Regions from separate parts of the Homo sapiens genome. Here region 2 is linked to region 1. The links come from fine-mapping of genetic effects on gene expression. Tissue or cell type: whole blood. Region 1 holds a variant in brackets; the other region holds the start of a gene. All regions are shown on one strand. Distances are from middle to middle.

Region 1 (4,182 bases):
TCAACAAAACAGTGGAGGCAAGCCAAGCAGGTGATATTATCAAAATTTTACAGCTGCAACTCAGACAAATCCAGACTTTGGAAGGATCAGCATAAAGGATCCTTCTACCACAAGAACAAAATACTGCAAAATGAAAAAGGGAAGACAGACCGAATGATCAGAAGTATTCCTCAGAACTGATAATGTTAAATCATGTTAAGTAGTTTCCTAGTTATCAGCATAGTGAAGTAGGGAGGTGGGTAAGAAGTAGGGAAGTTGGCCAGGCGCAGTGGCTCATGCCTGTAATCTCAGCACTTTGGGAGGCCAAGGCTGGCAGATCACCTGAGGTCAGGAGTTCGAGAGCAGCCTGACCAACATGGAGAAACCCTGTCTCTACTAAAAATACAAAATCAGCCGGGCGTGGTGGCACATGCCTGTAATCCCAGCTACTCGGGAGGCTGAGGCAGGAGAATGGCGTGAACCTGGGAGGCGGAGCTTACAGTGAGCCAAGATCGCGCCACTGCACTCTAGTCTCCAAAAAAAAAAAAAACTGAAGTAGGGAAGTTAGGCCTTCTGAATTGATATCCCATCACTGTATGACAGTGTTAGCCAGCTTTGCTGTAAATATCGTACCATGCCTATCCAAGAAATGAGGGAAAGGGCAGGAGAGAAGGGGTAAGTCAGGTTCCAAAAGGTACAGTTAGCGGAAACTGTAGGGGGGGGAGTCCCTGTGGTCCCCAATAGAAGAGATGAGAAGGAACTAAATGAAAATGCAGAGATTCTGAAGATGTAACTGACCACTTTAATTTCCCCCAACTGAAAGATTTTGAAAATCAATGGTAAAACAGGACTTAGTAACAAGAGAATTTGCTGTACAGTAACTTGGCTAGAATACAGTATTGTGTATCTTAAAGAGTAAGAAACTTGGGGGAAGGATGAGGTGACTAAGAGCCTTGAAAATTGCAGGCAATTTGTCTTTACTACAGGCTTATTAATAAGCCAGGTCATTTTGAAAGTTGTACTTAGAGCTTTATTTCCAAAACAGACAATTGTAAATTCTTATTTTTCCTTCAGTTTCTTCAGATGATTCTGAATCACACATGAGTGAAGAAAAAAAGGAAGAAGATTTACTAAATAATTTTATGCAATCAATGTCAATTGAAGAACAGGGAGAACATCTGATGTTAACTTGACAGTCTTGTCTCGTGTATTGAATTCGTGCCAAAGGTGAGGGTAAGGGGTTGTGAGTTGTGTCCTGTATGTTTAGGATGGTATTGTTATTTATTAAATCATTAAGTAATTTTGGTTTGTTCAGAAACTTAAAACAATGTAATTGGTCTGATGTAGTTCCATGTACCAATGATAGTTATGTAAGAAAATTTACATGTAACATATACTTGTACTTCTAGCTAGATACAATTAAAACTTTTCTTGCATTCAATATTGAATTACTTTTCTTTAAATCTGACAAATGCATCGTATTTCTTCTTTCTGTGTTCATAGTAAGTCCTAAAACAGCAATATTAGAATATCCTACAAGGGCCAGGCGCAGTGGCTCATGCCTGTAATCCCAGCACTTTGGGAGGCCGAGGCGGGTGGATCATGAGGTCACGAGTTCGAGACCAGCCTGACCAACATGGTGAAACCCCCGTCTCTACTGAAAATACAAAAATTAGCTGGGCATGTTGGTGTGTGCCTATAGTCCCAGCTACTTGGGAGATTGAGGCAGGAGAATTAGAATTGCTTGAACCTGGGAGGCGGAGGTTGCAGTGAACCGAGATCACACCACTGCACTCCAGCCTGGCAACAGAGCGAGACTCCGTCTCAAAAAAAAAAGAATATCCTACAAGTATTTTTTTGATTGGGCTAAGGGAAGCTTGGAAATATCCAGATACAGAATAGCATTTGACAGAGATGATGCTCTGACTTGCAAAGTAGGTGATCAATAAATATTTGCTATTTGAATACAACTTTAAAATGTAAATACACATTTTCCCTATCTTATGAAATTACCACATAAATAACTTGGGACTCTCGGACTAGATTAGGTTGGGAGTAGTTACACTAACAAGAGGATTCTTTACGTTATATATTACTCTAGTATGCTTCCTTGCTAAATTTGTTTTTTTTTTGTTTTGTTTTGTTTTTTTTTGAGACGGAGTTATGCTCTTGTTGACCAGGCTGGAGTGCAATGGTGTGATCTCGGCTCACTGCAACCTCCAACTCCAGGATTCAAGTGATTCTACTGCCTCAGCCTCCCGAGTAGCTGGGAATACAGGCATGTAGCACCATGCTGGCTAATTTTGTATTTTTAGTACAGACAGGGTTTCACCATGTTGGCCAGGCTGGTCTTGAACTCCTGACCTCAGGTGATCCACCTGCCTCAGCCTCCCAAAGTGTTGGGATTAGGGTGTGAGCCACTGTGCCCGGCCCCTAAACTTGTATTTTTAAAACTTTTATTAAACCTTGAAAAATGGAAATAGCAACAGTTTGAAGAATCACTGTTAATGT[C/T]GGCATGGTATATTATTTAGCAAATAAAATCTGAGTCCAACATTATGACACAATGTAAGAGAAGAGCTCTGAAAGGTCATCTCGTCCACTTTAATATTTATATCCGTAGTTTCACTTGGTTCCTCATTTTTATGTTTTTTTTTAAATTAAATACAGGTTATCAAAGTATAAATGAAAGGTAATTGTTTATTACTGGAGAAGAGAAAAATGTATACAAGAAAGTCTAGATTCTTTCTCCACATGCACTACTTTTGGAATAAAGTTCCAAATATCAACTTTGAAGATACTTACAAGGATAAATTTTTCTTAACAAGTGACCAATTACTGTGTTGTGGACATTTTTTCATAGAATCCATATACTGTAAACTAAATATATTCTTATAGTTTACAGGAAGCTTGGAGCAATTATGTATTAACAGAGAAGATGGTATTATATTTTACTGCAAAATATTATAAAAGTGATACAATTTTGTGGCTCTTAAATGTTTAATTACTTGATTTCAACAGGACAATGAAAAAAAACCAAAAATCATCAAGACAGGCCTGGCTTTAAGGTTTTTTGTATTCGATTCGTTCTACTTTCACATCATCTCCAATTAGCTGATACACATAGGTGACCACTGTAGAAGCCTGGATATCCATCAACACAAATGATGGAATAATGTTTCTAGAAGAAAAAATAAATAATGTCAGTGTTTTGTAGCACAAAGCAGCAGCACTATAAATTTCAATTTAAGATGACTATTTGGATTCAGAGAAATCTGTTACATATCACATGAACAGTTACCAAAAGATTGCCAAAATGGCTAGATTTATTTAAATGGTCACATGTGGCTGGGCACAGTGGCTTACGCCTGTAATCCCAGCACTTTGGGAGGCTGAGGTGGGTGGATCACCTGAGGTCAGGAGTTCAATACCAGCCTGGCTAACATGGTGAAACCCCATCTCTACTAAAAATACAAGAATTAGCCAGGCGTGGTGGCGGGTACCTATAATCCCGGCTACTTGGGAGACTGAGGCACAAGAATCACTTGAACCCGGGAGACAGAGGTTGCAGTGAGCCAAGATTGCAACACTACACTCCAGCCTAGGTGACAGAGCAAGACTCTGTCTCAAAAAAAAAAAAAGTCACATTTATTTTTATTTTATTTATTTATTTATTTATTTATTTATTTATTTATTTATTTATTGAGTCTCCTTCTGTCACCCTGGCTGGAGTACAGAGCCTCAAACGTGGCTCACTGCAGTCTCAACCTCCTAGGCTCAAGTGATCATCCCACCTCAGCCTCCTGTGTAGCTGGGATCACAGGCATGCACCACCACACCCAGCTAATTTTTAAAATTTTTTTGTAGAGACAGGGTCTCACCATATTGTCTAGGCTGGTCTCAAACTCCTGGGCTCAAGCAACCTGCCCTGGTCTCCCGAAGTGCTGGTATTACAGGCATGAGCCACTGTGCCCAGCCACATTTCTTTTACGAAATGTCACACATGCAATTATTTTACTAAAGCCCCCAAATTCCCAAATTCTATACTACTCACGTTTCCAAGGCATTATATGCCCCAGTGGCAGAACCTGGATTAATGTAGAATTTATTTTCATGCTCAAATGCTTCAAATTTGTGTGTGTGTCCCGAGATAAGAATGTCCACATCAAATTGCCTCTGCAACAGGGCTAAGCTGGCCATATCTCC
Region 2 (4,182 bases), 22 kb before region 1:
ACCATGGTGCCCAGGCTGACCCTGAACTCCTGGGCTCAAGTGATCTGCTGGCCTCAGCCTCCCAAAGTGCGAGGATTACAGGCTTAAGCCACCACACCTGGCCACATCACACTGTATCTTAATTGACAGGTCATCTATTTGTCTTCCCCAAAAGACTACAGACTCTGGGTAAGTTAAAGGCCATAGGTATCTTAGTTACATGTACATGTTTTTACCCAGAATAAGTCAACAGCTTAGAACAATGTGTTTGTTAAAGACTGAGGCCACACAACACCTCCACAGACTCTAGTGTTTCCACACTTCTTCTTTTTTTTTTTTGCGACAGTACCTCTGTCACCCAGGCTGGAGTGCAGTGGCACGATCACCACTCACCACAGCCTCAACCTCCTGGGTTCAGGTAATCCTCCCACTTCAGCTTCCCGAGAAGCTGGGACTAGAGGTACCTGCCACCAGGCCTGGCTAATTTTTGCATTTTTTTGTAGAGACAGAGTTTCGCCGTGTTGCCAAGGCTGGTCCCAAACTCCTGGGCTCAGGCGATCCGTCCACCTCCATCTCCCAAAGTGATAGGATTACAGACGTGAGCCACCACGCCTGGCTATGTTTCCCACACATATGTTATTTGATCCATATCTTCACCATTCTCACTGTATTTGAATGTTCCTAACATTCCCTTAATATTTGTTTACAAGAAAAAATTTTATCCCTACTGTAAACTGAAAACCACTTATATTTGACATAACGTGAAATTAGACATAAAATTATATAAAATCTTTAAATGTTCTATTTTTAGCTAAATACAGGTGCCTATTAAAAGCTCTGAGACTAAGAACTGCTCTCTGAAAAGACCTGGGGATTAAAGAAGTGCTGAAGATACACACTAGCACCGAGCACAACTTCTCCTAAATGCGAAGTTGAGAACTGAAAGAGAAATGAAAAGGGAACAATTTCCCTAACACATTATCTGATGCTCCTTAATGTGGGGTCCATGTACCACCTACCACCTAAAAGCACCTTAAATACCAAAAGTCCATGTCCCAAGTTCTGAGAAACAGTAATTAATGAGACCCCACTTTACCCTCCTGGGAGCGAGACAGGGCCGGATTCTGGAGTTGAGACAAAACTGGATTTATATTTTTTTGCGGGGCAAAGAACTTAATTAACCTTTCTGTATCTCGTTTTCTGTAAAATGAGAAAAATGAGATCTCTCTCACAGGGTTGTTGTAGAAATAAGCGAGGCGTTTCATCTGCTGCCTGGGGCTTAAGTATACAATAAATATTAACAACTACCATTATTTCCCTTTCAAAACAACAACAAAAAAGAACGTGAAGCCAGACAGCAGAAATGAGTTGCGTGGGGTCTCAGGGTTCCCAGTACACACACCCGCCGGCTCACTCCCTCAGGACCCAATCTCCCGCCTTCCACGAACTCCTACTTTTCTCTCCTTGTCCCCGCAGATCCTCACCTTCCCGCTGCCCGCGGGGCCCATGACCAGCTGCGCATACCGAGGCATGTTGGCTCCCGGAGCCGCCCGCCACACTCCCTTAGCCTTCGCGCGACGCCCACTGAGCTCCGGGAAAGTGAAGTGCGAACCAATCGCAATCCACATTCTTTCTACGCCTCCAGTTCTACCACACCTCCTACTACGGGGCAGCCCGCGGGCCAAATCCCGTGAGAAACGCGTCCTGAGAAAAAAGGGGAGGGGCGAGGGAGAGGATTTGCGCGTGCGCAAAAGTAGTTGATGGAAATCGGCCGTTGGGATGCTGTCTAAGCTTGGATACCTGAGTAATAACGGACAACAGATAAAGCTCCGCATCCTTGCGCCACGTGCTTCGGTCCGTGGTTTGCGTGCAGACGTTTGACCTGTATGGTGACCCTCGCGATTTGCAAATGTGCTGAGGATCTGGAATACTGAAGTGGAAGGCACCTCTTGTTTTGGGGAGCATGTATATTTCCCTCCTGTGACGCACTGCTTCCACAGAGAGGTGCAAACGTGCAAACGCTCAGCGACCGCAGCGCTCCTGCCCCTCCCCCACCGTAACTCCGGGGTCGCGGATCTGCCCGCCCCGCTCTCCCGAAGCTGTTCGGGCAGTGTCCGAACGGCTTCGGAGGGGCGAGAAGCCAGCATCCGAGCCGCCTCTCCGGAATACCAGCAGCCTGACGCACGCGTGCTGTCGGGGGAGGGATGCTGGGACAGCTGCTCCCGCACACGGCTCGCGGTCTCGGCGCCGCGGAGATGCCCGGCCAGGGTCCGGGGTCCGACTGGACGGAGCGTAGCTCTTCTGCAGAGCCGCCCGCTGTGGCCGGGACCGAGGGTGGCGGCGGCGGGTGAGGTTGGGGGCCCCGGGGTAAGGGTGGCAGCATGGGGCCCCCGGGTCGTGAGGCCCCCGGGTCGTGAGCCCCGTGGAGGAGGGCTGCGGCCGACCTCTCGTCTCGGGGGCTGGCCCCGGTGCCCTCAAGTGAGAGGCGGGGAGCAGTTTTGTTGTGGACAGAGGGCAGAGGGGAGGACTGCCTCGCGGTTGAGGGAGGGTCTCTGAGGGAAGCTTCGGAGGAGCGTTTGGTGCAGTGGCCACGAGGTGACTGCGACAGTCGCCCGCGTGCATCTCTCTGCCCCGAGGGGGCGCTGCGAGCCCTGCTGGGACGTTTGCTGTCTGGCACAGGACTGTGTGTCCACCGAAAGGCGAGGCGGGAGGGACAGAGGAGGAAGATGTCCCCCGGTTCAACTGGGGGCATCCAGGCCCATAAACCAGTTCCTTCCCTCTAGTGACATGAGCCACCTTCCTGTCAAACGGGGATTTCTTTTTCTTTTTTTTTCTTTTCTTTCTTGTTTTTTGAGAGCGAGACAGTCTCGCTCTGTTGCCTAGGCTGGAATGCGGTGGTGCGATCTCAGCTCACTGCAACCTCAGCCTCCCAGGTTCAAGTGATTCTCCTGCCTCAGCCTCCCGAGTAGCTGGGATTACAGGCGCCTGCCACCACGCCCGGCTAATTTTTGTATTTTTAGTAGAGAGGTGGTTTCACCATGTTGGCTAGGCTTGTGTCGAACCCCTGACCTCAAGTGAGCCGCCCGCCTCGGCCTCCCAAATTGCTGGGATTACGGGGTGAACCATTGCGCCCGACCTCAAACGAGGATTTCTAATCGCCAATGAGACCAATGACTGAATATCCGAGGTGCCTTGATCTTGACATTTTCTTCACACTGAAGTTCCTTTTTTCACAAATCTATTTCGTTTTGAGCAGGTTTTTACACCTATTTCCTAGATAGTGAAGACAGCGAGCTGTTGAAGTCACTGCTGGAGACTCTACCTCCTCTTCCTCTCCCTACTTTATTCCCTAAAAGCAAGAACTGCGATATGTTTGCCGTTCAGTACAACCCGCAGTCAGGGCCCCTGTTGCACCCATGGCCATCCTTTTTGTTTTTTTTTTTTTGAGACAGAGTCTCGTTCTGTTGCCCAGGCTGGAGTGCAGTGGTGCCATCTCAGCTCACTGCAAGCTCCGCCTCCCGGGTTCACGCCATTCTCCTCCCTCAGCCTCTGGAGTAGCTGGGATTACAAGCGCCTGCCACCACGCCCGGCTACTTTTTTGTATTTTTAGTAGAGACGGGGCTTCACCGTGTTAGCCAGGATGGTCTCGATCTCCTGACCTCGTGATCCGCCCGCATGGCCGTCCTTTTTGTCTCTGGTGCTACTGAAGACTTCTTAAAGATGGGATGGAGTCTTGGGTTTCTTTTCTGTTCTTCACAGTCCTTGGCCGACTGCAGGATCCTGGTGTATCAGGAGATACGTGAATTTTTTTTTTTTTTTTTATTGAGACAGAGTCTCCCTCTGTCACCCAGGCTGGAGTGCAGTGTCACGATCTCAGCTAACTGCAACCTCCGCCTCCTGTGTTCAAGCAATTCTCCTGCCTCAGCCTCCCAAGTAGCTGGGACTACAGGTGTGCGCCACCACGTACCTGGCTAATTTTTGTATTTTTAGTAGAGATGGGCATGAGCCTGTAATCCTGGAAGGTTCTATTATGATCCCCACTTTATGGATGACAAAACAGGCACAAAGAGGTTGTTTGTCCTTTCCTTTTATCTCCGCCTGTCGTTCATCTCCATGCTTCCTTTAGTTTATCCAAACTCTTAAAACTACAATTAAAAAAAAAGACAGTATGCCCTTCAGTTTGGTTTAAGGAACCCCATTAAA

The links. PIP is the estimated chance that this variant, and not a neighbour inherited with it, causes the effect.
Region 2: it holds the start of GPN3, and the variant in region 1 is fine-mapped to the expression of GPN3 in whole blood (INTERVAL, PIP above 0.99).

Annotation. Positions count from the first base shown.
Region 1 is chr12:110,488,966-110,493,147 of GRCh38, forward strand. It overlaps FAM216A (family with sequence similarity 216 member A), which reads left to right. Exons shown (of 7, transcript NM_013300.3): 7 at 1,054-1,420. The coding sequence ends at 1,172. It overlaps VPS29 (VPS29 retromer complex component), which reads right to left. Exons shown (of 4, transcript NM_016226.5): 3 at 4,031-4,182; 4 at 2,118-3,157. The coding sequence ends at 3,040. It overlaps LOC124903016 (a long non-coding RNA gene), which reads right to left and starts at 328. Exons shown (of 3, transcript XR_007063459.1): 1 at 1-328. The variant C/T (reference allele first, on the strand shown) is at 2,491.
Region 2 is chr12:110,466,693-110,470,874 of GRCh38, forward strand. It overlaps GPN3 (GPN-loop GTPase 3), which reads right to left and starts at 1,565. Exons shown (of 8, transcript NM_016301.4): 1 at 1,464-1,565. The coding sequence starts at 1,511. FAM216A (family with sequence similarity 216 member A) reads left to right here and starts at 2,153. Exons shown (of 7, transcript NM_013300.3): 1 at 2,153-2,326. The coding sequence starts at 2,184. It overlaps LOC124903016 (a long non-coding RNA gene), which reads right to left. Exons shown (of 3, transcript XR_007063459.1): 2 at 3,947-4,124; 3 at 3,597-3,759. RefSeq lists enhancers at 1,677-1,806, 2,727-2,896 and a silencer at 2,217-2,526.